2 linked regions of the Homo sapiens genome follow. The gene in region 2 interacts genetically with the main gene of each other region. Each region holds a gene or a part of one and is shown on either strand. Other genes may lie near its edges. The genes, in order: ARID1A and DDX19A.

What was found.
Region 1: changes in DDX19A (region 2) and ARID1A together harm fitness more than expected from each alone (negative genetic interaction), as found in Homo sapiens cells (2 studies listed by BioGRID).

Annotation. Positions count from the first base shown.
Region 1 is NC_000001.11:26,768,507-26,784,100, forward strand, and holds the end of ARID1A (AT-rich interactive domain-containing protein 1A), read left to right. Parts: intron 1-2,612; coding exon 2,613-2,820; intron 2,821-3,993; coding exon 3,994-4,126; intron 4,127-4,305; coding exon 4,306-4,481; intron 4,482-4,839; coding exon 4,840-4,990; intron 4,991-5,073; coding exon 5,074-5,211; intron 5,212-5,295; coding exon 5,296-5,392; intron 5,393-5,822; coding exon 5,823-6,714; intron 6,715-7,070; coding exon 7,071-7,201; intron 7,202-10,516; coding exon 10,517-12,250; 3' UTR 12,251-13,598; downstream 13,599-15,594. UniProt on the Homo sapiens protein: Involved in transcriptional activation and repression of select genes by chromatin remodeling (alteration of DNA-nucleosome topology).
Region 2 is NC_000016.10:70,355,394-70,370,987, reverse strand, and holds part of DDX19A (ATP-dependent RNA helicase DDX19A), read right to left. Parts: intron 15,504-15,594; coding exon 15,453-15,503; intron 14,877-15,452; coding exon 14,741-14,876; intron 14,143-14,740; exon of another isoform or gene 14,105-14,142; coding exon of another isoform or gene 14,082-14,104; intron 9,571-14,081; coding exon 9,478-9,570; exon of another isoform or gene 9,352-9,477; intron 6,446-9,351; coding exon 6,343-6,445; intron 5,972-6,342; coding exon 5,857-5,971; intron 5,056-5,856; exon of another isoform or gene 4,977-5,055; coding exon of another isoform or gene 4,904-4,976; coding exon 4,726-4,903; intron 4,365-4,725; coding exon 4,127-4,364; intron 766-4,126; coding exon 603-765; intron 1-602. UniProt on the Homo sapiens protein: ATP-dependent RNA helicase involved in mRNA export from the nucleus.

The sequences.
Region 1 (15,594 bases), on a different chromosome or scaffold from region 2:
TCGGCCTGCAAGATGGTACAGAGGCAGCCAGAGTAGAAGTAGATCTTCCCATTCCTGGAAGCTTCCCAGTAGAGATAGGATTTCAGGAACTGCTTAGTAGAAATAGTTTATAATAAAGGAAGAAGTAGTAGGAAATTATGTGTTTAGTTATTCTGTATGGGAAACTTAAATGAAAACCTGAATTGGACACCACCCAGAGCTTGTGCCTACTCTGATACCTTACAATTTTGTAGACTCAGCCCAGGAAGCAAACAGGTGAGGCAGCACAGACAGACAGCAGACTGTGCCTTGCAGACTTCCCTCCTGTGTATGTTCTGTAGTCACCAGACCAGAAGCCTGCTGTTGGATCAGTTTGTGGCTGAGCTCGGGGAGGTGTGGCAGGGAGGGATTTATTCCAAACCTTCTAAATCAGAAGAGGAAAACAGCTGTCACCAGCAGAAAAGAAAGTGGTTGGAATGAAGCCAGCCAACAGTCAGTTATGAATTCCTTCTCCCTTCAGGCTTTATTCCCCTCCCCCACAAAGGAAAACAAAACAAAATAAGACACGTGCATACTGCCACATAACTGGCATGAGAAGCAAAGCCACGGAAGGCTTTTGAGGTGACTCCATGCATATTCCTGCCATTCTCCCTGATACTCAGATCTCATAGTCAAGCCTTCCCTGTCTATAGGGAAAGGGAGCATTGGGTTAGGTTTCGCTCACTTCTGATTGGGTGGGCTTCAGGGTTCACTGAACCTAGGATGAGGTACAGAGAGAATTCTAATGCCTGAGCCTGTCTTCCAGATTGGAAAAGGATGCAAACCTTTAAAATGCCGTGATTGTAACTGAACTTTTATAAAGGCAGTGATAATTCAGGGGCAAAAGAGTGCTATTTATAAGTTAGTTTGTGAAGGCTCCAAGAAAGCAAAGCTGAATCTTGAGCTTATCTAAAGGATTAGTAGGGTTTAGGTGGAAGAGTGGCCAATCCAGTAGACTGGCCTAGATGCCACGGAGATGGGAGAGAGTCTAGATATTTCCCACCAAGGCCATCTCCAACCATGAAGACTTAGCTCAGGTGTTACCCACTCTAAGAAGTATTCCTAGTCACCTCTGCCCCTCTAGGTTGTCCCCCTCTGTGCCTCTTTAAACTCTTCTTTCTAGTATCATAGGTATCATATCAGCAGACATTACAACCTATTGAACTTCCTTTGTGTATAGGGACTTGAAAACCCTTGTTCCCAGGCCTTGGGGGAACAGGCTTACCATATGGTAGATGAATAAGCATAAGAATACATGAAGAAGGAGACCTGTCCAGCTAGAGCAGAAAGACTAATTGTAGGGAGCATCTGGGGAATGGGCTTGGTCAGTGTGCCCTGAAGCTGAGGGAAGGAGGCAGAACTGTAGGTTGGCTGCTCGGGAGGTACAAAAGTCATAATAAGGCCCCGGGCCAGGCGCAGTGGCTCACACCTGTAATCCCAGCACTTTGGGAGGCCGAGACGGGCGGATCATCTGAGGTCAGGAGTTTGAGACCAGCCTGGCCAACATGGCCAAACCTTGTCTCTACTAAAAATATAAAAATCAGTGGGGTGTGGTGACAGGCACCTGTGGTCCCACTACTTGGGAGGCTAAGGCAGGAGAATCACTTGAACACGGGAGGCGGAGGTTGCAGTGAGCCGAAATGGCGTCACTACACTCGAGCCTGGGTGACAGAGTGAGACTCTGTCTCTAAATAAATAAGACCCTGAACACCCGGACCATCAGGACAGTGACTGGTAAGGGAAAGGGACCTGTGGTTATTTGTCAATGAGATATGTAGGGGAGCAGTGGCACAAGAATGTCAAATTTGCAGGGAGCCACCACCCCAAGAAAAAAATATGAGTAAATCCCAAGTTTGACAAAGCAAGTCAAGCAGGGTGGTCACTGATATTATCATGAGTCTCCATTTTATAAAATGTTAGTTTTTATTAGTGCATCTAAAATAGGATTTAGGGCCAGGCGCGGTGGCTCACGCCTGTAATCCCAACACTTTGGGAGGCTGAGGCGGGTAGATGACTTGACGCCAGGAGTTTGAGACCAGCCTGATCAACATGGTGAAACCCCGTCTCTACTAAAAATACAAAAATTAGCCAGGCGTGGTGGTGCACACCTGTAATCCCAGCTACTCGGGAGGCTGAGATAAGAGAATCGCTTGAGCCCGGGAGGCAGAGGTTACAGCGAGCCAAGATCACGCCACTGCACTCCAGCCTAGGCGACAGAGCGAGATTTATTTTTTCTGTCTCAAAAATAAATAAATAAAATAGGATTTAGATATCCAGATGATTTGTACACCACTTTTTAGCAGCGTACTAAAAAACCGGACTCTGAATTCTGTTCCAGTAGTAATGTGAAATTTGCCCTGTTGTGAATAAGCACAGTCTGATAGTTGCAGTGGAACATCCTGAGGGTAAAATGAAGCCAGCTGCAGATTTAACACTTCTTGTGGACTATCCACCAAGCAAGATTAACTTTTTCAATTACCTAAGAACTGTGGTTCTACAAAGATGAATACCTTACAGCCTGATGGGGCTTGGGGCTTATGGGCAGGAAAACCAGGCGGGAGATATACCTCGACTCCTTTGGTTTGGTTATACAGGTCAACAAGAACAAAAAATGGCGGGAACTTGCAACCAACCTCAATGTGGGCACATCAAGCAGTGCTGCCAGCTCCTTGAAAAAGCAGTATATCCAGTGTCTCTATGCCTTTGAATGCAAGATTGAACGGGGAGAAGACCCTCCCCCAGACATCTTTGCAGCTGCTGATTCCAAGAAGTCCCAGCCCAAGATCCAGCCTCCCTCTCCTGGTAAGGATGGGGTCAGCGGCCCCACCAAGGCTGAGAGGGCCTGTTGCCCTGGCCTCTTATTCAGGATATGAATAAGAGGCTTATCCAACAGGATATGCCAAGGATCTGTGCTCTGCCTTGCCCTACCACAGGGCTTAACAGGTTGGCTGACTAGAGAGTGGGCAGTGGAAACTCCCTTGGGAGGTACTCTACGGCAGCTCTTAAGTTTTAATTTTTGTTGTGCAGCTGACAACTTGCCAAATGTTTGTAAACTGGTGAATGGGAGGGGCACAAGAGGAGTCGGTGGAACTTATAAATGGCAGCAAGGCAGGGCCATCTGGGAGCTTTGGCCTATTGATGTCAGCACCTTAGAATGCAGCTCAGACTAGAGCCCTGAATTCCCCAGGGAGCTGAGATGGTAATGAATGGGAAGGAGGGAGTGGGGAAGGGTTATGAATGGAACTCCCTGATGGGAGTGGCTCTGCTCACCCTCCTTTCTGAGAGGAGGCTGAGGCCTAGGGTGAGCCTAGAGAGGGAAGAAGGCCAGGGTGCCTGGAAGGTGGGTGTAAACACATGTGCCCTGGTGTTGACCTCTGAGGGTGTAATGAGTGCCTGAGATGACTCATCAGCTGGGGAGGCCTCAGCAGTGGGATATCTACTGCTGGGAATGGTAACTATTGGAAACATTAATTACTAGTAGTTTTGTACTCATCAGCTTAGAAGAACATTTGAAGTTGAGGAGTGACACCATGCTGGATGCTTTAGAACAGGAGCTCCTAGACTCCTAAAATGCATCCCAGATTTGGGACCCCCTTCCCACCCAGGACTTGGGAGGCTCTGACTGGAGCTCATGCACCAGCATTACAGGGTTTAGTAGGTTAGACAAGGTCCTTTGGCGGAGTGAAGAGAAATAGCCAGGGAAGCTGGCAATGACTCAGGGAATCACCAGCATGGTGATGTCATGGCCACATCACTCCTCTTTTCTACACGTAAAACAAAAACAAAGAGCTACAAAACCCTCAGATTCCCGTCTTTATGACCTGGCCTTGTAGATCCTCTGCTAAGAAGGGTGATCAGGCTTTAAAGGCCTTAGGAAGAACTTTCCCAAAGAGATTCTGGGTCGTTCGTGTGTTTGTGTGAGAGTTAAACACTGTCATGCCAAGCAAACTACTCAACTTGTATCTCTGTCCACAGCGGGATCAGGATCTATGCAGGGGCCCCAGACTCCCCAGTCAACCAGCAGTTCCATGGCAGAAGGAGGAGACTTAAAGCCACCAACTCCAGCATCCACACCACACAGTCAGATCCCCCCATTGCCAGGCATGAGGTAAGGCCAAGAGCAGGGGCAGATGGTTGGGAGGATGGCTGAAGATAAGTGCATGGGAACTCCTTGCAGCCCAAGGTGGTCCTTGCCTCTGCCTTCCCAGCCAGTGACTCCTGCGTGTCCTTTGTTATATTGGAGGAATTGGTTTATTTGTGGTTTACTTGGTTTTCCTCACTCTGGAGCAGGAGCAATTCAGTTGGGATCCAGGATGCCTTTAATGATGGAAGTGACTCCACATTCCAGAAGCGGAATTCCATGACTCCAAACCCTGGGTATCAGCCCAGTATGAATACCTCTGACATGATGGGGCGCATGTCCTATGAGCCAAATAAGGATCCTTATGGCAGCATGAGGAAAGGTGACTGATCTGATTGCTATTTGAACTTGTGCTCGTAAAGACAGGGCCAGTGAAATGGGGGGAAATCTTGAGAATGGCTCAGGGTTCTTGTGGAGCCATCCTCTGAGATAATGCATTTCCTGCCCTAACTACCCCTCTTCATCCTTACCTCCTTTCTTGTCTTCTCCTTGGCTTCACCTTGTCATCCCTTAATAAGTACATGCTTTTCGCTGGTTGGGGCCTCTTTAGATCTCTGTTTTGAACTTGTCTGGAAAACAATGAGATCAAACCTGAACTCTGAAGAGGGCCTGGGTCAAAGGGTAGATTACCAGGCTTGTCAACTTACCAGTTTGTTCACCGCTTGCCTTTCTACGCTCAGCTCCAGGGAGTGATCCCTTCATGTCCTCAGGGCAGGGCCCCAACGGCGGGATGGGTGACCCCTACAGTCGTGCTGCCGGCCCTGGGCTAGGAAATGTGGCGATGGGACCACGACAGCACTATCCCTATGGAGGTCCTTATGACAGAGTGAGGTAAGCATGACCCCAGCTCCTGTCCACTCCCCCAGCACCCTGAAGCTATAGTGGGCTCAATCTGCCTCTCCAATTTTGTTTAGGACGGAGCCTGGAATAGGGCCTGAGGGAAACATGAGCACTGGGGCCCCACAGCCGAATCTCATGCCTTCCAACCCAGACTCGGGGATGTATTCTCCTAGCCGCTACCCCCCGCAGCAGCAGCAGCAGCAGCAGCAACGGTGAGTAAAGCCTGGTCTCGGTGCTGCTATGGATCAGGCTTCGCCACTGCCCACCCTAATCCTGTGTTTCTTTGCCTCCTATAGACATGATTCCTATGGCAATCAGTTCTCCACCCAAGGCACCCCTTCTGGCAGCCCCTTCCCCAGCCAGCAGACTACAATGTATCAACAGCAACAGCAGGTGAGGAGGGTAGCTGGGAATGGACTGGCATGCAGGTTCGCCTTGAAAACTAGTTAGTAAACTAATCTAACGTGTTGAAGTCTAAGAAGCTCACTTTAGATATTTTGGCATTCTTCTCTCACCTGACTGGCCAGTCCTGCCTGAAGAGCCACGTCCTCAATCTCTTCTCTATTTGGAGTTGGAAGGGGCTAGAAATAGACCTTATTTTGATTTTTAGGTTTTGTATATTTTTCTACTTAAGCAAGGGAAGGGAAGAAAGAGTGGTGGTTGCTTTTGGAAACAACTTCAAAAGACAATTTGTTAAGGTGATTCCCATGTTTTCTTGGAGTCTGTGTCCACCAAGCATCTGGTTGTAGCCATCTTGGCATCTGTGGGCTTTATGTCCCTGAGTGCAGAGTATTAACTTCCCCTCTGCTTGTCTCTGCCTTAGAATTACAAGCGGCCAATGGATGGCACATATGGCCCTCCTGCCAAGCGGCACGAAGGGGAGATGTACAGCGTGCCATACAGCACTGGGCAGGGGCAGCCTCAGCAGCAGCAGTTGCCCCCAGCCCAGCCCCAGCCTGCCAGCCAGCAACAAGCTGCCCAGCCTTCCCCTCAGCAAGATGTATACAACCAGTATGGCAATGCCTATCCTGCCACTGCCACAGCTGCTACTGAGCGCCGACCAGCAGGCGGCCCCCAGAACCAATTTCCATTCCAGTTTGGCCGAGACCGTGTCTCTGCACCCCCTGGCACCAATGCCCAGCAAAACATGCCACCACAAATGATGGGCGGCCCCATACAGGCATCAGCTGAGGTTGCTCAGCAAGGCACCATGTGGCAGGGGCGTAATGACATGACCTATAATTATGCCAACAGGCAGAGCACGGGCTCTGCCCCCCAGGGCCCCGCCTATCATGGCGTGAACCGAACAGATGAAATGCTGCACACAGATCAGAGGGCCAACCACGAAGGCTCGTGGCCTTCCCATGGCACACGCCAGCCCCCATATGGTCCCTCTGCCCCTGTGCCCCCCATGACAAGGCCCCCTCCATCTAACTACCAGCCCCCACCAAGCATGCAGAATCACATTCCTCAGGTATCCAGCCCTGCTCCCCTGCCCCGGCCAATGGAGAACCGCACCTCTCCTAGCAAGTCTCCATTCCTGCACTCTGGGATGAAAATGCAGAAGGCAGGTCCCCCAGTACCTGCCTCGCACATAGCACCTGCCCCTGTGCAGCCCCCCATGATTCGGCGGGATATCACCTTCCCACCTGGCTCTGTTGAAGCCACACAGCCTGTGTTGAAGCAGAGGAGGCGGCTCACAATGAAAGACATTGGTAAGGAGATCTTCCTCATTCGGTTGCCTAATCTGCCCCTTTCCATCTTGTCCATTGTTCCCTCCACCTTACTATTCTGGATGAGGTTGAATCTGGTCCAGTGTTGACTAAAATAGAACCAAAGAACTTTGGAAAAGGAAGAAATAAGCTAACTAAAGGTTCTCCTTCATTGCCATGCAATGAAGTCCTAGACAGACAGCTTAGAAGCCATGAGGGGCTGGTGTGTTTCATCTCCCAGACAGAAACTGCCTTCCACCTTGTGTTATCTTCAGAGTAGCTTCACTGATGGGGCAGCCCTAGGGGTGCCTCCAGCCAACCTGGGCTTGGTGGATAGACGACATGGAGGTTTATTTCAGGAACCCCGGAGGCATGGCGGGTAATGATGTCCCTCAAGTCTGGTCTCCTGGCAGAGAGCACATGGGCATTAGATACCATCAACATCCTGCTGTATGATGACAACAGCATCATGACCTTCAACCTCAGTCAGGTGAGTATCAGTGCCTGGGGAAGATTGAGAGGGTTTGGGATCTTCTTAGTGTAGACAATGGGAATGTCTCATCTTTAGCCACCTTGGTCTTTCTCTTTCTCTCTTGTAGATATCTTCCATGCCAGTACTTTGCTTCCTTTGCCTCTGGGCACGGGCCCAGGATTTTGACAGCAATAATAATTTGTTTACATGATAACCTTAACACAGGATTGACTTCAAAAGGAATTTGGGAGACACTTTGTGGTATTAGTAAGAATTCAGATTCAATCGATGCCAGTGGGGACACCACATTTTCTAGAAGAATCTGTGTTTTTTTGTTTTTTTAATAGAGACGAGGTCTCACTATGTTGCCGAGGTTCATGAACTCCTGAGTTCAAGTGATCCTCCCAAAGTGCTAGGATTACAGGCATGAGCCACCAGGCCCAGCCTGAATCTGTGGTCAAATTTTTATCAGTGAGCAGAGTATGTTTTTTCCATTTTTCCCTTTCTTCTCTGAACAGTAGGGGCCTTTGTTGATCCCAGTTTTCCTTAGATGTAGAGTGGATGGGGGATTTGATTGTTTAACAATATTCTTTTTTTTTTTTTTTTGACTGAGTCTCTCTGTCGCCCAGGCTGGAGTGCAGTGGCGCTATCACAGCTCACTGCAACTTCCGCCTCCTGGGTACATGCCATTCTCCTGCCTCAGCCTCCCAAGTAGCTGGGACTACAGGCGCCCGCCACCACGCTCGGCTAATTTTTTGTATTTTTAGTAGAGACGGGGTTTCACCGTGTTAGCCAGGATGGTCTCGATCTCCTGACCTCGTGATCCAGCCGCCTCAGCCTCCCAAAGTGCTGGGATTACAGGCGTGAGCAACCGCGCCCGGCCCTACAATATTCTTACAAAGCTGATTCTTCAGACCCACCCTCCATAGGATGTGCACACTAGTGGAGGTGCTGGAAAGAGTTTGTGCTGCATCATCCTACTCTTTTTCTTTTGATCATCTTTAGTACCTACCAACCTGTATATCAAGGAGCTGACTTATTAATAGTTACCATTTATCGTGCTCTTATTTTGTGCCAGGTCCTTAATATTTTGTTTCATGTCATCCTAGCAACAGCCCTCAGAGGTAGGAGGTATGGCCATTTAGGGATGAGTAAATAGGCTCAGTCTTATCCTTGTTGAGGTTCACATAGCTGTCAGTAGAATCTATCTGATTCCTAAGCCTGATTTTATTTCCATTGCATAATATTGCCTACCATGAGAAAGGAAAAATTTTGATAGAGCAATTTTCATATGCCAGGTATTTGACATCTCCCATTTACACCTCAGAACAACCCTGTAAAGTTTAGGAATTTTTATCATTTTATACAGCTACTTCCTGGAAAAGCCAGAATTTTTTTTTTAAGAGACTCTGGCACCTAGGCTGGAGTGTAGTAGTGCCCTCATGGCTCACTGCAGCCTCAAACTCCTGGGCTCAAGCGATCCTCTTGCCTCAGTCTCCTGAGTAGCTGGGACTACAGGCAAATGCCACCATGTCCAGCTATTTATTTATTTTGAGACAGGGTCTCCATTACTCAAGCTAGAGTGCAGTGGTGCAATCACAGCTCACTGCAGTCTCAACTTCCGAGGCTCAGGTGATCCTCCCACCTCAGCTTCCCAAGTGGCTGGGACTACAGGTGCGTGCAAACATGCTCATGCTCAGCTAATTTTTTTTTTTTTTTTTTTTGAGAGATGAGGCTTCACCATGTTGCCCAGGCTGATTTCAAACTCCTGGGCTCAAGTGATTGACCTACCTCAGCCTCTCAAAGTACTAGGATTACAGGTGTGAGCCACCGTTCCAGGCCCCGGATAACTTCTTTATTTTTTTATAGAGGCAGGGTCTCACTGTGTTGCCCAGGCTGGTCTCAAACTCCTAGGCTCAAGTGATTCTCCCACTTCAACCTTCCAAAGTGTTGGGATTACTGGCTGGGTGCAGTGGCTCACGCCTGTAATCCCAGCACTTCAGGAGGCCGAGGCAGGAGGATCATTTGAGGTCAGGAGTTTGAGGCCAGCTGGCCAACATGGTGAAACTCCATCTCTACTAAAACTATAAAAATTAGGCTGGGCGCAGTGGCTCACGCCAGTAATCCTAGCACTTTGGGAGGCCAAGGTGGGTGGATCACTTGAGGTTAGGAGTTCAAGACCATCCTGGCCAATATGGTGAAACTCCATCTCCACCAAAAATATAAAAATTAGCCGGGCCTGGTGGCACACACCTCTAATCCCAGCTACTTGGGAGGCAGAGGCAGAAGAATCACTTTGAACCCAGGAGGCAGAGGTTGCAGTGAGCTGAGATCGTGCCACTGCACTCCAGCCTGGGCAACAGAGCGGGACTCTGTCTCAAAAAAAAAAAAAAAAAAATACACACACACACACTCTCACACACTAGCCCGATGTGGTGGCAGGCGCCTGTAATCCCAGCTACTTGGGAGGCTAAGGCAGGAGAAAAATCGCTTGAACCCAGGAGGCGGAGGCTGCAGCCAACTGAGATCACACCACTGTACTCCAGCCTGGATGACAGAGTGAGACTTCATCTCAAAAAAAAAAAAAAGTGTTGGGATTACAGGTGTGAGCCACTGCTTCCAGCCCCTAGATCTAATTCGAAAGCCCTTATTTTTTTTTCCATCTGCTCTACTGTTCAGCCAAAGATTGTGACTGGAGAGGAGTGTTTTCTTCTAGAGGTAAATAAATGGCCTATATATTATCCAAGGTGGAATTTGGGTCTCTGTAGCACCAGCTTGGACCAGTGTTTGGAGAGCTGAAGCCTCGTCCCACTCCTTATGCTGCAAGATCCATGGAGTTCCAGCCCCCTGGACTTGTGGGGAGCTTGGAGAAGAGAGCCATGAACATCTGCCCACATGGCATTCTCTTCTCTTAGCTTAAGTCACCATGCCTAAGCTTGGGTTCCACTTGGCAGTGAGATGGAGAGAGTGTCCTAAAAGAGATAATGGCAATGACCACCAGGTTGAAAACTGGCCTGGTGAAGAAAAGCAGAAGATTAATTGGGAAAAGAGAAGGCTAAGAGATGATTGGCCCTGGTGGGTGAGGTGCAAAGCTGTTGGCTAGTGTTCCTGGAGATAGGCTTACGTGAAGGTAGGTTGGGCAGAAGAAAGAACTTTGTGTTGGGCATAGAAGAGATTAAGATGAACAATTTGCTCTGTGGAGAACCTTTGGGAAAGGAGCAACTCTGCCTCTCCCAACTGATACAGAAGACTTGGGGAGGTCTCTCAAGTCAATAATTCTGTTCTTAGGCCACTTTTCTCCCTTAATTTATTTCCTGTTCTTTCTCTTTTTAGCTCCCAGGGTTGCTAGAGCTCCTTGTAGAATATTTCCGACGATGCCTGATTGAGATCTTTGGCATTTTAAAGGAGTATGAGGTGGGTGACCCAGGACAGAGAACGCTACTGGATCCTGGGAGGTTCAGCAAGGTGTCTAGTCCAGCTCCCATGGAGGGTGGGGAAGAAGAAGAAGAACTTCTAGGTCCTAAACTAGAAGAGGAAGAAGAAGAGGAAGTAGTTGAAAATGATGAGGAGATAGCCTTTTCAGGCAAGGACAAGCCAGCTTCAGAGAATAGTGAGGAGAAGCTGATCAGTAAGTTTGACAAGCTTCCAGTAAAGATCGTACAGAAGAATGATCCATTTGTGGTGGACTGCTCAGATAAGCTTGGGCGTGTGCAGGAGTTTGACAGTGGCCTGCTGCACTGGCGGATTGGTGGGGGGGACACCACTGAGCATATCCAGACCCACTTCGAGAGCAAGACAGAGCTGCTGCCTTCCCGGCCTCACGCACCCTGCCCACCAGCCCCTCGGAAGCATGTGACAACAGCAGAGGGTACACCAGGGACAACAGACCAGGAGGGGCCCCCACCTGATGGACCTCCAGAAAAACGGATCACAGCCACTATGGATGACATGTTGTCTACTCGGTCTAGCACCTTGACCGAGGATGGAGCTAAGAGTTCAGAGGCCATCAAGGAGAGCAGCAAGTTTCCATTTGGCATTAGCCCAGCACAGAGCCACCGGAACATCAAGATCCTAGAGGACGAACCCCACAGTAAGGATGAGACCCCACTGTGTACCCTTCTGGACTGGCAGGATTCTCTTGCCAAGCGCTGCGTCTGTGTGTCCAATACCATTCGAAGCCTGTCATTTGTGCCAGGCAATGACTTTGAGATGTCCAAACACCCAGGGCTGCTGCTCATCCTGGGCAAGCTGATCCTGCTGCACCACAAGCACCCAGAACGGAAGCAGGCACCACTAACTTATGAAAAGGAGGAGGAACAGGACCAAGGGGTGAGCTGCAACAAAGTGGAGTGGTGGTGGGACTGCTTGGAGATGCTCCGGGAAAACACCTTGGTTACACTCGCCAACATCTCGGGGCAGTTGGACCTATCTCCATACCCCGAGAGCATTTGCCTGCCTGTCCTGGACGGACTCCTACACTGGGCAGTTTGCCCTTCAGCTGAAGCCCAGGACCCCTTTTCCACCCTGGGCCCCAATGCCGTCCTTTCCCCGCAGAGACTGGTCTTGGAAACCCTCAGCAAACTCAGCATCCAGGACAACAATGTGGACCTGATTCTGGCCACACCCCCCTTCAGCCGCCTGGAGAAGTTGTATAGCACTATGGTGCGCTTCCTCAGTGACCGAAAGAACCCGGTGTGCCGGGAGATGGCTGTGGTACTGCTGGCCAACCTGGCTCAGGGGGACAGCCTGGCAGCTCGTGCCATTGCAGTGCAGAAGGGCAGTATCGGCAACCTCCTGGGCTTCCTAGAGGACAGCCTTGCCGCCACACAGTTCCAGCAGAGCCAGGCCAGCCTCCTCCACATGCAGAACCCACCCTTTGAGCCAACTAGTGTGGACATGATGCGGCGGGCTGCCCGCGCGCTGCTTGCCTTGGCCAAGGTGGACGAGAACCACTCAGAGTTTACTCTGTACGAATCACGGCTGTTGGACATCTCGGTATCACCGTTGATGAACTCATTGGTTTCACAAGTCATTTGTGATGTACTGTTTTTGATTGGCCAGTCATGACAGCCGTGGGACACCTCCCCCCCCCGTGTGTGTGTGCGTGTGTGGAGAACTTAGAAACTGACTGTTGCCCTTTATTTATGCAAAACCACCTCAGAATCCAGTTTACCCTGTGCTGTCCAGCTTCTCCCTTGGGAAAAAGTCTCTCCTGTTTCTCTCTCCTCCTTCCACCTCCCCTCCCTCCATCACCTCACGCCTTTCTGTTCCTTGTCCTCACCTTACTCCCCTCAGGACCCTACCCCACCCTCTTTGAAAAGACAAAGCTCTGCCTACATAGAAGACTTTTTTTATTTTAACCAAAGTTACTGTTGTTTACAGTGAGTTTGGGGAAAAAAAATAAAATAAAAATGGCTTTCCCAGTCCTTGCATCAACGGGATGCCACATTTCATAACTGTTTTTAATGGTAAAAAAAAAAAAAAAAAATACAAAAAAAAATTCTGAAGGACAAAAAAGGTGACTGCTGAACTGTGTGTGGTTTATTGTTGTACATTCACAATCTTGCAGGAGCCAAGAAGTTCGCAGTTGTGAACAGACCCTGTTCACTGGAGAGGCCTGTGCAGTAGAGTGTAGACCCTTTCATGTACTGTACTGTACACCTGATACTGTAAACATACTGTAATAATAATGTCTCACATGGAAACAGAAAACGCTGGGTCAGCAGCAAGCTGTAGTTTTTAAAAATGTTTTTAGTTAAACGTTGAGGAGAAAAAAAAAAAAGGCTTTTCCCCCAAAGTATCATGTGTGAACCTACAACACCCTGACCTCTTTCTCTCCTCCTTGATTGTATGAATAACCCTGAGATCACCTCTTAGAACTGGTTTTAACCTTTAGCTGCAGCGGCTACGCTGCCACGTGTGTATATATATGACGTTGTACATTGCACATACCCTTGGATCCCCACAGTTTGGTCCTCCTCCCAGCTACCCCTTTATAGTATGACGAGTTAACAAGTTGGTGACCTGCACAAAGCGAGACACAGCTATTTAATCTCTTGCCAGATATCGCCCCTCTTGGTGCGATGCTGTACAGGTCTCTGTAAAAAGTCCTTGCTGTCTCAGCAGCCAATCAACTTATAGTTTATTTTTTTCTGGGTTTTTGTTTTGTTTTGTTTTCTTTCTAATCGAGGTGTGAAAAAGTTCTAGGTTCAGTTGAAGTTCTGATGAAGAAACACAATTGAGATTTTTTCAGTGATAAAATCTGCATATTTGTATTTCAACAATGTAGCTAAAACTTGATGTAAATTCCTCCTTTTTTTCCTTTTTTGGCTTAATGAATATCATTTATTCAGTATGAAATCTTTATACTATATGTTCCACGTGTTAAGAATAAATGTACATTAAATCTTGGTAAGACTTTTGTGAAGCTTTTTATTGTTTTCAAACTAAAACTTGACCTTTTGTCGGGGGGCAGGGGGATAGTCCTGTTTTTGCAAACCTCCCTTAGTGTGAGATCTCCCCTAAATAGTGGCATTCCTGGACCCTGTCATTTATTTACTATATTCCAAAATAAGACAACCATTTATCTGGAGGCAATCTCCAACTTAATCACTTATAATATCTCTGGACTGGCTCTTTTCCCTGACTCCAGACTAGAGCATTCAGCCACCTTTCTTGTCATCCCTGCTTGGAAGTTTACTTTGAACATGCCAAAGCTAAAATGTCCTGTCTTCCCCCACTAGAAACCTGCTTCTCCCATAGTTTTGGTTTTTTTGTTTGTGTTTTCCTTTTAGTAAATGGCAACTCCATTCTATCACTTGGCTAAAAAAATCCTTGACTTCTTTCACTTCCACATCCAATCTGTTAGCACTCTTCATAAAATAATCCTCAATCCCACACTACTGTAGTTCAAGATACTGTCATATCTTGGATTCTTGAAATACCTCCAAATTGGCCTCCCTGCTTCTGCTTTGCCTGGTTGAACCTATTCTCAACAGAGCAACCAAAAGGACCCCTATAAAAGGTAAGTCAGATCAAACGCCTTCAGTGCTTCTGACTCAGTAAGTAAAAATCCAGACTCTTAAAAAGTGGCCTACAAGGCCCTGAGTTATCTAGCTTACCTCTACCTTTCCTGCACCATCTGTCTTGCCCGTTGCTCACCCCACTGTATAGAGATGTTTCCACCTTGGAGTCTTTGTACTTTATACTCTCTCACCAAATAACTGCATGGCTCAAGTCCTCGACTGCTTCAAGTCTTTGTCCAAATATATAAGTAAGGCTTTTCATGGTCACCTTACTTAGAATAGCAATCTCTGCCCCCCACTATGTTTCCCTTGTCTGCCTTATTTTTCCTGTGGCACTTGTTACTGTCTGGCCTGTTGTGTGTTGTACTTACCTGTCACCTTCCACTGAAATGTAAACTGAGGGTGGTGGGAGGGGTGTTTTGTTCACTGCTGCATCCTGGTGCTAACACATAGACTGGCACATAGCATCTACTTAAGTAGTAGTTGAATGATACTGTCGATGTTGGCTAGATGCAGTTGCTTTTATGAGGCTAATGTCACAATATATAGTTTCTCTGTTCACCCCCTTCCTTAGGGAAACAATAGAGAAGCCTCAAGTTCCTCAGGAGAAATCAGAAGCAGAAAGAGAAAAAATGCTATCATTGTGGACACTTAGAAGTGAAATTTGAAACAAGAAACAACAGTTTTCTATTGTGTACCTACTTATATTCTGGACATAGCACATCACAATCCTACAACAATCCTGTGCCTGTGAAGTCAGTATGTGGCTCCCATTTTACAGTTGAAGAAAGAGGCTAAGAAAAGTGAAAGGCTTTTTAAGTTCATACACCAAGCAAGTTCCACCTGACTCCAAGGATCATGCTTTTCTTAATATACCACACTACCTCCTTTCTGGATGAGAACCCAACCCAGGAGTAAGGGATCTAGCTGTGGAGCTCAGCAAGCAAGATTTGTTTTTATTGTCTTTAGCACGAGGTAAAATTGTCCTCAGAATTTCAATCAAGTGTTCATCAGACTAAGTGTGGCTGTTAATATTTGGGTCAGGAACAGGATTTGAATAATTAGTATTTCTCAATTGAGAGAGGAAAACCTTTGTCAACCAAGATGCGTTCCTAGGATTCTTCTAGAAAAAGGTAAATGGGAAGCTTTTCATATCTACAATTTTGGTAAGCAATATTGCTAATGGCTATTTTTGTTCTAGGCCTCGAGCTCCGTTTGCTAGTCTAGAAATTGCATATCTGGGCTGTGTGTGGAGCATTACCTAGGAGTTCGGTTTCCTGGGTTCCTTTCATCTGCTCTCCTGCAATGCAGGGAGAGCCTAGCCTGGTCTCCAGTTTCTGACTGGAGTTACCATGGCCAAGAGAACTGCTGGCCAGTGAGCTGTGA
Region 2 (15,594 bases):
GTTTCGCTCTTGTTGCCCAGGCTGGAGTGCAATGGCGCGATCTCACTCACCGTAACCTCCACCTCCCGGGTTCAAGCGATTCTCCTGTCTCAGCCTCCTGAGTAGCTGGGATTACAGGCGCATGCCACCACGCCCGGCTAATTTTTGTATTTTTAGTAGAGATGGGGTTTCACCATATTGGTCAGGCTGGTCTCGAATTCCTGACCTCAGGTGATTCGCCCACCTCGGCCTCCCAAAGTGCTGGGATTACAGGCGTGAGCCACTGGGCCTGCCCTCTTCCTTTTTTTTTTTGGAGACAGAGTCTCACTCTGTCACCCAGGATGGAGTGCTATAGCACATTCTCGGCTCACTGCAACCTCTGTCTCCAGGGTTCAAGCAATTTTCCTGCCTTGGGATTGCAGGCATGAGCCACCGCACCTGGCATGTGTGAGTTCTTACCACCTCAGGGAAATCCAAACAGTCTCTCCTAGAAAGGAATAGTGTCACCAACCCCACCCATCTCCCTGAGACCATCCGACTTCCCTGTATACAAGGATTTCTGGCTCTAATTGGGCCTGGGACCCCGAGCCTGGCAGACCAGGTGGGACACGTCCTCTGCTCACCGCGGGCACACACGTTGGTGGTCACCAAAACCTTCTCTTTGCCCTCTCGGAAGCGCTCAATCACCGCAGCCCTCTGCTCCACCATCATCTCCCCACTCAGCAGAGCCACCTGGTGGCCTTCTTTTGAGAGCTCTGCTGCCAGCCAACTAGCTGTTTTGCGAGTCTGGAAGAAAAAAAACAATTGAGAAATGAAAGTATTTGAGTATATATTTTTTCTTTTTGAGACACAGTCTTGCTGTCACTCAGGGTGATCTAAAAAGTCCTGGGCTCAAGTCATTATCCTGCCTTGGCTTCCCAAAGGGCTGGGAGTACAGGTGTGAGGCACCACGCTCAGCTGAAGATATTTTTGATCTGGAAGACTGTACCTGAAACTTAGCAGCTAAAAGCTAAATTTCTTAAAATTGTAAACCCGATATAGTGCAACAGGAAGTAACAATGTCACCTGGCTTGTAATCTTACGAAAATATTTGTACCTGGCTGGGCATGGTGGCTCACACCTGTACTCCTAGCACTTTGGGAGGACGAGGCACGTGGATCGCTTGAACTCAGGAGTTCGAGACCAGCCTGGGGAACATGGCCAAACCTGTCTCTACAAAAAATTTAGCTAGGCATGGTGGTGTAGGCCTGTAAGTCCCAGCTACTTGAGGGAGCTGAGGCAGGAGAATCGCTTAAACCTGAGAGGTCGAGGCTGGTGAGCCAAGATTGCACCATTGCACTCCAGCCTGGGTGACGGAGCAAGACCTTGTCTCCAAAAAAAAAAAAAAAGAAGAAAAGAAAAAAAAAAGAAAATTTATACCACAAAAATATTTAACCTGGGGCAAGATACGGTGGCTCACGCCTATAACCACAGCAATTTGGGAGATCAAGTGAAGGATCACTTGAGCCTAGGAGTAAAAGACTACCCTGGGGGCCAGGCGCGGTGGCTCATGCCTGTAATCCCAGCACTTCGGGAGGCCGAGGTGGGCCGATCGCGAGGTCAGGAGTTCAACACAAGCCTGACCAACATGGTGAAACCCCGTCTCTGCTAAAAATACAAAAATTAGCTGGGCGTGGTGGCATGTGCATGTAATCTCAGCTACTCAGGAAGCCGAGGGAGGAGAATCGCTTGAACCCGGGAGGCAGAGGCTGCAGTGAGCCAAGATCATGCCATTGCACTCCAGCCTGGGCAAGAGGCGAGATTCCGTTTCAAAAAAAAAAAAAAAAAAAAAAAAACCAGATTGGCCGGGCACGGTGGTTCACGCCTGTAATCCCAGCACTTTGGGAGGCCGAGGCGGGCGGATCACCTGAGGTCAGAAGTTTGAGACTAGCCTGACTAATATGGAGAAACCCTGTCTCTACTAAAAATACAAAATTAGCCAGGTGTGGTGGCACATGCCTGTAATCCCAGCTACCCGGGAAGGCTGAGGCAGGAGAATTGCTAGAACCCGGGAGGCAGAGGTTGTGGTGAACCGAGATTGCACCACTGCACTCCAGCCTGGGCAACAAAAGCAAAACTACATCTCAAAAAGAAAAGACTACCCTGGATGCTTCAAGATGTCATTGTAATGAGAGGCAATAAAATAAAGGTGAGGAAATTCTTCTAGATTTAGGAGTCTTAAGAGACATGACAACTAAATGCAACAAGCAAAACTTGACTGGCTCTTGGATTTAACAAAACAAAAAGCAATAAAGATGAGCTGGGCACAGTGCCATGTGCCTGGAGTCCCACCTACTTGGGAGGTTGAGGTAGGAGAATTGCTTGAGCCCAGGAGTTTGAGTCCAGCCTGGGCAAGATAGTGAGACCGTCTAAAAAAAAAAAAAAAGAGTATTTTTTGGCGTCAGGCGCAGTGGCTCATGCCTGTAATCCCAGTACTTTGGGAGGCCATGGCAGTTGGATCACCTGTGGTCAGCAGTTCAAGACAAGCCTGGGCAACATGGTGAAACCCCCTGTACCAAAAATACAAAAATTAGCTGGGCATGATGGCGGGCGCTGGTAATCCCAGCTACTCTGGAGGCTGGGGCAGGAGAATTGCTTGAACCCAGGAGGCGGAGGTTGCAGTGAGCCTAGATCACACCATTGCACTCCAGCCTGGGTGACAGAGCTAGATAGACTCGGTCTCAAAAAAAAAAAGAATACTTTTGGCACAAGTGGAGATAGGAGAACGTGGATTATATTTGAGAGATATATTACTGTTATCACTGTATCATTGCATTGTATGTTTCCTTGTTTTGAGACAGAGTGTTGCTTTATGACCCATGCTAAGTGCAGTGGCGTGATCACAGCTGACTGCAGCCTCTAACTCCTGGGCTCAAGGGATCCTCCCACCTCAGTCTTCCGAGTAGCTGAGACTACAGGTGTGTGCCACCACATCCAGCTAATTTTTTTTAAGTGTTTTAGAAATGGGGTCTCCCGACGTTGCCCAGGCTGGTCTCAAACTCCTGGGCTGAAGCAATCCTTCTACCTTGGCCTCCAAAGGTGTTGGGATTACAGGCGTGAGCCACTAAGCCTGGCCTCTTTTTTTTTTTTTTTGAGACGGAGTCTCGCTCTCTCACCCAGGCTGGAGTGCAGGGGCACGATCTCAGCTCACTGCAATCTCCGCCTCCCAGCTTCAAGTGATTCTGTTGCCTCAGCCTCCCGAGTAGCTGGGATTACAGGCATGCACCACCACACCCAGTTAATTTTGTATTTTTAGTAGAGACGAGGTTTCTCCATGTTGGTCAGGCTGGTCTCCAACTCCCGACCTCAGGTGATCCGCCTGTCTCGGCCTGCCAAAGTGCTGGGATTACAGGCATGAGCCACCGTGCTCCGGTGTCTCTTTTATTCTAAAATCATTTTGACATTTTCTTCAGAGATCTTAAATATTTATTTTTTCTATTATCAATGAGATCTATGCTTCCATTTTCTAAGTATTTGTTGTTTGAGACTGGAAAACTATGTGTGTGAATGTTATGACTATCTTGTTGAACTTTTTTTTTTTTTGAGACGGAGTCTCTCTCTGTTGCCAGGCTGGAGTGCCGTGGTGTGATCTCGGCTCACTGCAAGCTCTGCCTCCCGGGTTCACACCATTCTCCTGCCTCAGCCTCCCGAGTAGCTGGGATTACAAGCGCCCGCCACCACGCCGCGCTAATTTTTTGTACTTTTAGTAGAGATGGGGTTTCACCGTGTTAGTCAGGATGGTCTCGATCTCCTGACCTCGTGATCCACCCATCTCGGCCTCCCAAAATGCTGGGATTACAGGCATGAGCCACCGTACCCGGCCATCTTGTTGAATTTTTTATTTTTCTTACAAATATGAGTTGATTCTCTTGGGTTGTGCAACAATACATCATCCACAAATAAGACATAAAGTTCAGGGGCTCTATCTTTAGGCTATGTATCCCTTGGGATACTACCATTACCCCCACTAAAGGAGAGCCTGTCTCTTACATCTTCAAAAAGCACTTCCCTTCTTTCCATGGCGCTCAGGGGCATCCAGTCCTCCTGAGCCCTGTGGGGAGCTGGCTGAGAGGGAGGGGCCAGGCCTGCCACTGCCGCTGCTACTCACATGGCAGAAGATCATGGCTTGAGCAATGGTGATGGCCCCGTAGAGGTTACACAAGGCCTGGAACTTCTCGTCTCTGCTGCTGCACAGGACATAGTACTGCTTGATGGTATCCAGGGTCTCTTCCTCACGCTTCAGTTTGATAACATTTGGGTCTGGGACCACTTTCTGGGCAAACTTCCACACAGAGTCTTCAAAGGTGGCGGAGAAAAGCAGCATCTGGCAGTTCCTGGGCAGCATCCTGCAAGGGAAGGCCCGGGTAGATGGCCCCAGGTGGCCCTGGGAAGCAACGGAAGCACAGCCTCCCCAGCTGGGAGGGTCTAGATGCCCAGGAAGGCTGATGGGGGAGGAGCATCTTGGGGAGGAGGAGCAGCAGGCCTGGGATGGGGACAAGGGTTGGGGAAGAGTCCCTAGGTCTCCTTTCTCAACCCAGGTTGGGAGGGACTGTGATCAGCGCTGACATGGAAATGGCCCGTCAAACAAATGCTGCTGAGAGTACGAGAGCCAAGACCCAGGCAGAAGCCAGAGGAGGCGTCTGAAGTGAAGGGAGAAGACACTGCAGATGGGGAGTCTGAGGAGTCCCCCACCCTCGAGATCCCTACCTCTGGATGCGGATGCTCTGATCTTGGTGGCCCTGAGTGGCTATCATGACATCAGCCTCATCCAGAACAAACACCTTGATTTTCTTGGGATCAATGAACTTGAGCTTGGAGCACCAGTCCAGCACGGTCCCAGGGGTGCCAATGACAATCTGCTCACTGATCTTCTGGCCTCTTTCCACTGTGGAGACCCAGGTGATTTTCATAGGTATTTCAAAGGCAAAGCCAGCTCTGGAAATCAAAGCCCTGCCCATCCTTCTAGGACTAGGAGAACAAGTTATTTCCAGATTTCAAAACACACATGAGTGTTCCCCTCAGTCTTGGTCTCTTCTGCTGTGAAGTGGGCAGAATGACACCTATCTCAGTGCACTGTGGTCAGGATCAAATCCCACACAGCAATCCTTCAATAAGCATCAGTTCCCTTCTTCTTCCTCCTATAATCCAACATCATCCAACTCTTTTTATGTTTATTTATTTATTTATTTTGAGACAGGGTCTCACTCTGTTGCCCAGACTAGAGTGCGGTGACACAGTCATGGCTCACTGCAGCTTTGACCACACAGGTTCAAGCGATCCTCCTGCCTCAGCCTCCCAAGTAGCTGGGACTACAAGCTGGCACTTCCACGCTTGGCTATTTTTTTTTTTTTATTTTTTGTCTTACTATGTTGCCCAGGCTGGTCTCGAACCATGTGCTCAAGCAGTCCTCCCACCCTGGCCTCCCAAAGGGCTGGGATTGCAGGTGTGAGCCACTGTACCTGGTTTTGCTTACTTTTAAAGAAAGGGAGCTGACCCCAACCTTCCATCCTCAGTCCTGTTAATCCCTCTTTGGTAGCAGGTCCCAGAACTCTGGACGCTAAATTCAAAACTCTACCTTCTGAGCGAAGAACTCTAGATATTAAGAACTCTGTGAGCCATGCGTGGATTTTTTTTTTTAATCAACCGAAAATCTTATTTTAAGACTGAAAAAGACTGTTAACAAATTAGCAGGTATTCAAATAGATTCAAATAGAGCAACACAGTTAGGCTCCAGGGTCAGACTGAATTAGAAAGTTGAATACGGTCATCGCATCTTCAAAATTCAAACGCCCAACCCCCTACCCTGCTCACTGTTCAGTTGTCGCCTGCCGTACTCACATTTATTGCCTCGAACGGCATAGGCAAGCTTCAGTTCTGGGTAAAATTTGCCCATCTGCTCAATCACTTTTCCTGTTTGAAGCGCCAGCTCATATGTTGGGGAGAGGCACAGACACTGACAGAAAAATCATAAAGGATGAGTTTAGGAGAGCCATTTGGTAACAGACCTGAAGGCACCCAGTATGCTGATGTTATTAGCACTTGAATAGCACAGGGAAGCATGTCCTCCCATCCAGGCCCACCTTTCAGCCATAGACTGAAGCCTGCAGCAGGTAGCCCTGGCTTGGCAGAGGCCTTTGCAAGCCATGGTCTAAGGCTGCTGCTTTCAAGCACATTCTCCCAGGTCAGGGCCTGGTGTAGGAACTTGCTCTGCCTGAGCCACAGCCTAAGGTGTCAGAAGCTTCAGACCTCTCGTTACTCCTCACCAGATGGCACTGCGCTCCCCAGGGCAGGCAACCTAGGACACCCAGCCCCGCAAGCCCTCACCTGGGGGTATCTGTCTGATGGCTCCACTCGGCTGAGCATGGCTAAGACAAAGGCAGCTGTTTTACCAGTGCCAGACTGAGACTGGGCAATCAGATTCTGTGGGCTGGATCAAGGAAGAACAGAAATGAAACTTAAATTGGTGAAACTCAGTAACATGTCAAAATGTTCTTTCTGAATGAAAGGCATATTTCCCCCTTCGTGCTTCTCTATATTACCCAGGTTTTCTCCATTGAGCACAAATTACTTTCATACATTTTTTTATACGCTGTTAAAAAGCTGCTTAAATTGTAAAATAAATGATTATTTTAAATGGGCTCACACCAAGAAATTCTCATTCTAGCCTCTAGCACAGCTAAAGGACCCCAGTTTTGCACCCCAAGGGGCACAGGGAAATCAAGTGTGCAGAGTAAGATCTGTGCCCAGACAAGACCCCAGCAATATTTTTGGCTGAGCCATGATGCATTCCCAGAATTTGGTTCCTTCTGTGTGTGCCTTTCCCCAGTTTTATGGACAAGATGCTAAGTCAGGTGGATGTTTTAGAGGGAACTTTTACATTCCATTTTATGGGACCCAGCATCATGGGAATAGGTGGCATGGTTGTCATTAAAAAAGATAAATATGGCTTACGCCTGTCATCCCAGCACTTTGGGAGGCCGAGGCAGGCGGATCACAAGATCAGGAGATCGAGACCACCCTGGCTAACACAATGAAACCCCGTCTCTACTAAAAATATAAAAAATTAGCCGGGCGTGGTGGCGGGTACCTGTAGTCTCAGCTACTGGGAAGGTTGAGGCAGGAGAATGGCATGAACCTGGGAGGCGGAGCTTGCAGTGAGCAGACGTTGCGCCACTGCATTCCAGCCTGGGCGACAGAGCGAGACTCCATCTCACAAAAAAATAAATAAATAAATAAATAAATAAACTAAGGTGGGCAGATCACTTGAGGTCAGGAGTTCGACACCAGCCTGGCCAACATGGTGAAACCCCACCTCCATTAAAAATACAAAAATTAGGCTGGGTGCGGTGGCTCACGCCTGTAATCCCAGCACTTTGGGAGGCTGAGCCAGGCAGATCACGAGGTCAGCAGTTCGAGACCAGCCTGGCCAACGTGGTAAAACCCCATCTCTACTAAAAATACAAAAATTAGCCAGGCATGGTGGCAGGCACCTGTAATCCCAGCTACTCGGGAAGCTGAGCCAGGAGAATCACTTGAACCCGGGAGGCGAAGGTTGCGGTGAGCTGAGACCGCGCCATTGCACTCCAGCCTGGGCAACAGAGCGAGACTTCATCCCAAAAACAAACGAACAGACAAAAAAATACAAAAATTAGCCAGGTGTGGTGGTGTGCGCCTGTAATCCTAGCTACTCAGGAGGCTGAGGCAGGAGAATCACTTGAACCTGGAAGGCAGAGGTTGAAATGAGCCAAGATTGCACCACTGCACTCCAGCCTGGGCGACAGAGGAGACTCCATCTCAAAAAAGAAAAAATGATAAATATGCCAGGTGCAGTAACACATGCCTATAATCCCAACACTTTGGGAGGCTGAGGCTGGAGAATCACTTGAGGCCAGGAGTTTGAGACCAGCCCTGGCAACATAGTGATACCCTGTCTCTACAAATTTTTTTTTTTTTTTTGAGACAGAGTCTTACTCTGTCGCCCAGGCTGGAGTGCAATGGTGTAATCTTGGCTCATTGCAACCTCTGTTTCCTGGGTTCAAGCGATCCTCCCACCTCAGCCTCCCTAGCAGCTGGGATTACAGGTGTGCGCCACCAAGCCCGGCTAATTTTTTTGTATTTTTTGTAGAGACGGGGTTTCACCATGTTGGCCAGGCTGGTCTCAAACTCCTGACCTCAAGTGATCCACCTGCCTCAGCTTCTCAAACTACAAAAAAGTTTTTTTAAAGTCAGCTGGGCATGGTGGCACATGCCTATAGTCCCAGCTACTCCGGAGGCTGAGGTGAGAGGATTAATTAAGCCCAGGAGGTCGAGGCTGCAGTGGGCTGTAATTGCACCACTGCACTCTAGATGGGGAAACAGAATGAGACCCTGTCTCAAAAGGAACTTAGTCTTGTCAGGGTGGGAGAAGGATGTGGAAGGAGGGGAATTCAGGGGCTTCAACTATCAACTGGACCTGCTTCCTTTCTTGGCAGGATAGGGCTACAGAGGTGTTCTTGGTATTGTTCTTTACACCTTTGTGTAGGTCTCAAAAATTTCCAAATAATATTTTGTTTGTTTTTGAATTTATTGCAACACCATTCACATCAAAATAATATTTTTTAAACCCAGTTTTTTTTTTTTTTTTTTTTTTGAGACAGAGTCTATGTTTCCCAGGCTAGAGTGCAGTGGCATGTCTCGGCTCACTGCAACCTCTGCCTCTGGGGTTCAAGCAATTCTCCTGCCTCAGCTACATGACCACAGGTACGTGCCACCATGCCAGGCTAATTGTTGTATTTTTAGTTTAGTTTTTTTTTTTTTTTGAGACAGGGTCTTGCTGTCACCAGGCTAGAGTACAGTGGCACCATCTCGGCTCACTGCAACCTCTGCCTCCCGGGTTCAAGCAATTCTCCTGCCTTAGCCTCCTGAGTAGCTGGGACTACAGGCACATGCCAACAGGCCTGGATATTTTTTTTTTTTTGATTTTAGTAAGACGGGGTTTCACCATGTTGCCCAGGCTGGTCTCGAATTACTGAGCTCAGGCAATCCGCCCACCTTGGCCTCCCAAAGTGCTAGGATTACAGGTTTGGGCCACCGTGCCCAGCTAATTTTGTATTTTTAGTAGAGACAGGGTTTTGCCATGTTGGCCAGGCTGGACTCAATCTCCTGACCTCAGGTGATCCGCCCGCCTCGGCCTCCCAAAGTGCTAGGATTACAGGAGTGAGCCACCATGCCCGGCCTTAAGCCCAGTTTTTAAGATAGCATGGAATAAAGCACTACCTTTCTCTATAAGTTTCTATTGTTAAGTGGGAAAGGCAGAAACTGTAGCTAACTCCATCCGATTCTCTCTGCACTTGCCTAAGCTGTATTCCTGAGGAAACACGTGGCCCCAAACAGCTCCTTCTGTTCTCAGGCACAAAAACGCAGTTTGGGGAAGATTGATCTAATCACACTGGGTGAGATGCGCTTCATCTGCATACTCACGGTTCAGCAAGCATCATGGGTAATGCGTTCTCTTGTATCTTGGAGGGTCGATTGAAGCCCATGGCATAGACTCCCTGGAGAAGCTGTGGTTTCCTAGGAAGCCAGGAAGACAGAGGATGGATGCCTAGAAGTTAGAATTGTTTTAGAGGCCTAGAATCTTATCTTTTTCTATAGAAAGGAATGATGCCTCCTACCTCTGTCAGACGTATTTTCCTATGCCTTAAAAAAACACTGTCAAAAACCAAACCAAATCAAACCAAGCTACCGCCCTTCCCTAAGGAATCTTAATCTGCAACTATTCTATAATTCATAAAATACAGAATGGTTTCTTTTCTTAGAGAAATTAATGCTTTCAGCAGACCCGCAAATCTGGCTGGCCTTGGAAGACAAGTGTTCCCTGGACACAGCAAGGGTGGTGGTTATTAATTCATAGCATTACATAAATTATAAAAGATATATCTAAAAACAGGTCAGGTACAGTGACTCATGCCTGTAATCTCAGCACTTTGGGAGGTCAAGGCAGGCCAACTGCTTGAGGCCAGAAGTTCGAGAACAGCCTGGGCAACATGGTGATACCTCGTCTCTACAAAAAAATACAAAAAATAGCTGGACACACCTGTAGTCCCAGTTACTCAAGAGGCTGAGGTGGGAGGCTCACTTGAGCTCAGGAGGTCAAGGCTGCAGTGATCTGTGACTGAGCCACTGCACTCCAACCAGGGTGACAGAGTGGGACTCTAAAGTAAATAATAAATGAAAATAAACACTATTTACTATACTGCTAAGATTTAGAAGTCCTTTTGTTCCATGTTCCTTCCAAAGCCAGCTATGCAAATACTCCAGACAATCAATAGGTAAGGAAATTGATGGGCTGGGCGTGGTAGCTCACGCCTGTAATCCCAGCACTTTGGGAGGCCTAGGTGGGACGACTGCTTGAGGAGTCCAGGCGTTCAAGACCGGCCTGGGCAACACAGTGAGACCCTGTCTCTAAAACAAAACAAAACAAAACAAAACAAAAAAGAAAAATGAGCTGGGCATGGTGGCATGCACCTGTAGTCCTAGCTACTTGGGAGATTGAGGCAGGAGGATTGCCTGAGGCTAAGAGTTAGAGACTATAGCGAGCCATGATTGCCCCGCTGCACTCTGGGCTGGGCAACAAGGCCAGGTCATCTCTTAAAAAAAAAAAAAAAAAGAAAGAAAGAAAGAAAAAAGAAAAAAAAAATTTTTTTTTTTGAGATGGAGTCTTGCTCTGTTGCTCAAGCTAGAGTGCAATAGCGTGATCTTGGCTCACTGCAACCTCTGCCTCCTGGGTTCAAGCGAGTCTCCTACCTCAGCCTTCTGAGGAGCTAGGATTACAGGCGCATACTGCCACACCTGGCTAATTTTTGTATTTTTAGTAGAAACAGGGTTTCGCCATGTTGGCCAGGCTGGTCTTGAACTCCTAATCTCAGGTGATCCACCTGCCTCGGCCTCCCAAAGTGCTAGGATTACAGGCGTGAGCTGTAGCGCCCGGCCATAAAAAAAGAAAATTGATGAAGCCAGTTTCTAGTAGCTGATATACAGTAAATAAAGGTGGTTCGATTAACCTACTAAACTTTACAAATGCTCAGATTCACTTAGGTCTAATCAAAATAAACAGACAAACACTAACTACTTCTTTCTGAGAGACGTTCTCACTCTGTCGCCCAGGCTGGAGTGCAGTTGTGTGAACTGGGCTCACTGCAACCGACACCTCCCAGGCCTCAAGAGATCCTCCCACCCTTGAGTAGCTGGGGCTGCAGGCACATGCCACCACACCCGGCTAATTTTTTTTTATTTTTTGTAGAGATAAGGTTTCACCATGTTGCCCAGGCTGGTCATGAACTTCTGAGCTCAAGAGATCCACTCACCTTAGCCTCCCAAACTGCTGGGATTACAGGCGTGAGCCACCGCACCTGGACACCAACTTCTTATGTAAACAGCTACACAAGAATTATCAATTTAAGTTGCTCTTACATTGCATTTACAATCAGCTCTCTGCTACCTCTAAATTGACAAGATGTTTAAGAAAAATCATACCAGATTGTTTCTAAAGAAAAGGCAACCCAACTGTTCTCTAAGCCTTCCTTGGAGTTTAGCAGGCTCTCTAAAAGGCAAATTCTCTGGCGTATGTTGGTTCTCAGACACAAAGAAATTTAAAAACATAATCTTTCATATCTTCCATTTGGGAGAAAATGCTGTGACACTCGGCAGCTTCTGACTTGGTTGCCAAGGAAACAAAGTCACTACCTTAATTGGGACTCAAATGATCCAACAGCTTCCACTGACTCAGTTTTCTTTGATTTTGCAGATTAACTCAAATATTTTAGGTACAAAGCAGACCAAGTACATTAGGTGATCTTGGTTTCATTCTTTGTTTCCTTTTCCTACCAACAACTAAATCAGAGAGAACCTGTCTTTTACAGAGGACAATTCATCAGTGGTTAAACTGAGAGCTCACGTCTTCTAAAGGGAAGAAATTTAAAAAGGCAGTTGATACTTGGAGGAGCAAACTGTCACTCTAAGGAAATCATACCACATGTCTAGCTGTCCTGATACAGCTTAAAAATAAAAGTGGAGATGACAGATTTGGTGAATAAAGTCCTTGACAGAGAAAACACATAGAAAAGCATAATTTCCGTTTGAGAAGGAGTTTCGCTTTTATCTCCCAGGCTGGAGTGCAACGAACGGCATGATCTCGGCTCACTGCAACCTCCGCCTCCTGGGTTCAAGCAATTCTCCTACCTCAGCCTCCTGAGTAGCCGGGACTACAAGCCATGTGCCATTACAGCCGGCTAATTTTTTTGTATTTTTAGTAGAGATGGGGTTTCATCATTTTGACCAGTCTGGTCTCGAACTCCTGACCTCAGACAATCCACCTGCCTTGACCTCCCAAAGTGCTGTGATTATAGGCGTGAGCCACCGTGCCCGACCTAAAGTATAACTGTTTAAAAATACATTTTTGGTCTGGCCTGGGCAACATGGTAAAACCTCATCCTATTAAAAAAAAAAAAAAAAAGTTATTGGGCCAGGTGCAGTGGCTCACACCTGTAATCCTAGCAATTTTGGAGGCTGAGGCAGGAGGACTCTTTGACCACAGGAGTTCAGGAGCAACCTGGCCAACACAGTGACACCACATCTCTATTTTTAAAAATAAAAAAATAAGGCTGGGTGCAGTGGCTCATGCCTGTAATCCCAGCAGCCTGGGAGGTTGAGGCGGGCAGATCGCTTGAGGCCAGGAGTTTGAGACCAGCCTGGCCAACATGATGAAACGCTGTCTCTACTAAAAATACCAAAATTAGCCAGGTGTGGTGGCTCAGGCCTGTAATCCCAGCTACGTGAGAGGCTGAGGAACGAGAATCGCTTGAACCCGGGAGGTAGAGGTTGCAGTGAGCCAAGATTGTGCCACTGCGCTCCAGCCTGGGCAACAGAGTGAGACAGTCTCAAAAGTAAATAAATAAATGAATAGAAATAAAAAATAAAAATAAAAAATTGTTCTTCAAGATTACTTAACAACTAGTTAGCTTTCTTGTTTTAAGTGTCTCTTTCTCAGTGGTAATAGCTGGAAGGAATGTGGCTTCAATTTGTCCATAGTGGCCATACTATAGATTTTGCTGAACTAAGGCAAAGAATCCATTGATTCCACCATATTCTTATTCATCAGCTACTTTCTATGATTGTGATCCTGGCAGGCAGCAAGAATAATAAGTAGGTCTTGTGTTCCTTGTAACATCCAGCACAGTGGCATGTATATAACACAATGATCCACACTTAATCCTCTATTAATTTACTGAAGTAAACCTAAAACGTAAGGCCGGGCACAGTGGGTCATGCCTGTAATCTCAGCACTTTGGGAGGCCGAGGCGGGCAGATCATGAGATCAGGAATTCGAGACCAGCCTGCCCAACATAGTGAAACCCTGTCTCTTCTAAAAATACAAAAATTAGCTGGGTGTTGTGGCACACGCCTGTAGTCCCAGCTAACTCGGGAGGCTAAGGCAGGAGAATCGCTTGGACCTGGGAGGTGGAGGTTGTGGTGAGCTGAGATCACGCCACTGCACTCTAGCCTGTGCAACAGAGCACGACTTGGTCTCAAAAAAAAAAAAAAAAAAAAAAAAAAAAAAAAAAAACAAACCAAAAACAGATTTGACAGATTTTTTAAAAAGCAGATAAACTGTAAGACTGTAAACCCTATAGTCTAAATATACATATATATATATATATATTTTTTTTTTTTTGAGAGAGAGTCTCGCTCTGTTGCCCAGGCTGGAGTGCAGTGGCACGAACTTGGCTTACTGCAACCTCCGCCTCACAGGTTCAAGTGATCTCCTGCCTCAGCCTCCGCCTCCTGAGTAGCTGAGATTACAGGCCTGTGATATCACACCTGGCTAAGTTTTGAGTTTTGTATTTTTAGTGGAGACAGGGTTTCACCATGTTGGTCAGGCTGGTCTTGAACTCCTGACCTTGTGATCTGCCTGCCTTGGCCTCCCAAAGTGCTGGGATTACAGGTGTGAGCCACTGTGCCTGGCCTTTTTTTTTTTTTTTTGTAAAAAAAAAACAAATAGCACATGTTCTCACTTAAGGGCTTACCTAATCAGAAATGTTCCTGACATCCAGAAATCACCTGTCAGCCAATATTTTATTGAAAGTTCTAAGAGTATAAGAGAAATAAGACTTTTAGCTATGATAAATCAATTTGAAGCATTAAAAAATTCCTACCAAGAGAACAGGATAGCCAAGGACACAAGGGTGGGAGATTAATACTGCAAATTTTTTCATACTTTTTGACTTTTGAATCATGTGACTTATTCATGTGACTTCTTTTCAAAGAAAAAAAATAGCCAGGCACGGTGGCTCACGCCTGTAATCCCAGCACCTTGAGAGGCCGAGGCAGGCAGATCACCTGAGGTCAGGAGTTCAAGACCAGCCTGGCCAACATGGTGAAACCCCGTCTCTACTAAAAATACAAAAAATTAGCTTGACATGGTGGTGGGCGCCTGTAATCCCAGCTACTTGGGAGGCTGAGGCAGGAGAATCGCTTGAACCCGGGAGGCAGAGGCTGCAGTGAGCTGAGATCACGCCATTGCACTCCAGGCTGGGCAACAGGAGCGAAACTCTGTCTCGAAAAAAAAAAGGAAAAAATACACTAAATTTTTAAAAGTAAAATTCTCACAAGAATCTCTCAGATGCTAAGTTTTATGTGGGGAGAGACTGGCAACGAAGAGCTGTTGAAAGGAGCGAATACTCACAGCCGAAGCTCTTCAAACGACTTCACCGAGTACAGAGGGGAGTTTGGATCCCGTTGCAGGACTTCCACTTGGTTTGTGTTATCAACAAGGTTGCTTCTGATCAGCTTGTTGAGTAAGGACTGGGCAGCTCTGTCCTCTGTCAGGAAGAAACCAGTAGATCTTCATACTCATCTGGCAAACCCCAGGCTTATGAAGCCACTCTTTCTCCCTCTCCACACTAGCACCTGGGCAGTCAAGCACGGCTGGAGAAAAACCATCACACTGATAGGTCTCTATTTATTTATTTTAGAGATGGGGTCTTGCTGTCACCCAGGCTGGAGTGCAGTGGAGCAATCAGAGCTCACTGTAGTCTAGAATTCCTGGGCTCTGGCAATCGTCCCACCTCAGCCTCCCAAGTAGCTGGGAGTACAGGTGTGTGCTACCACACCCAGCTCATTTTGAAATCTTTTGTAGAGATGGGGTCTCAGTATGTTGCCCAGGCTGGTCTTGAACTCCTGGCCCAAAGGAATCCTCCCACCTCGGCCTCCCAAAGTGCTGGGATTACAGGTGTGAGCTACCGCTTTCGGACTTGTTTTGTTCTCCTCCTCTCACTGACTATTCCTTCTCTGATTCCTCTCATCTCCTGGATCTTGTAGCTTGGAGTGCCCCTGGCTCCAGGAAGGCAAGCCCTGGGTCATACCGTCTCTTGCCAAGGGCATCCAAAAGTAGTTACCTTTCTCCTCTTCATCTGTTTTCTCGGCAGTGGTACTGGTTTTGATAATACCTACACAAGAAAACAATTGTCATAATTAGAAAGGCAAATATGAGAACCACCAAAAATGTGGGACAATATAAATAAATACACTGAAATTTAT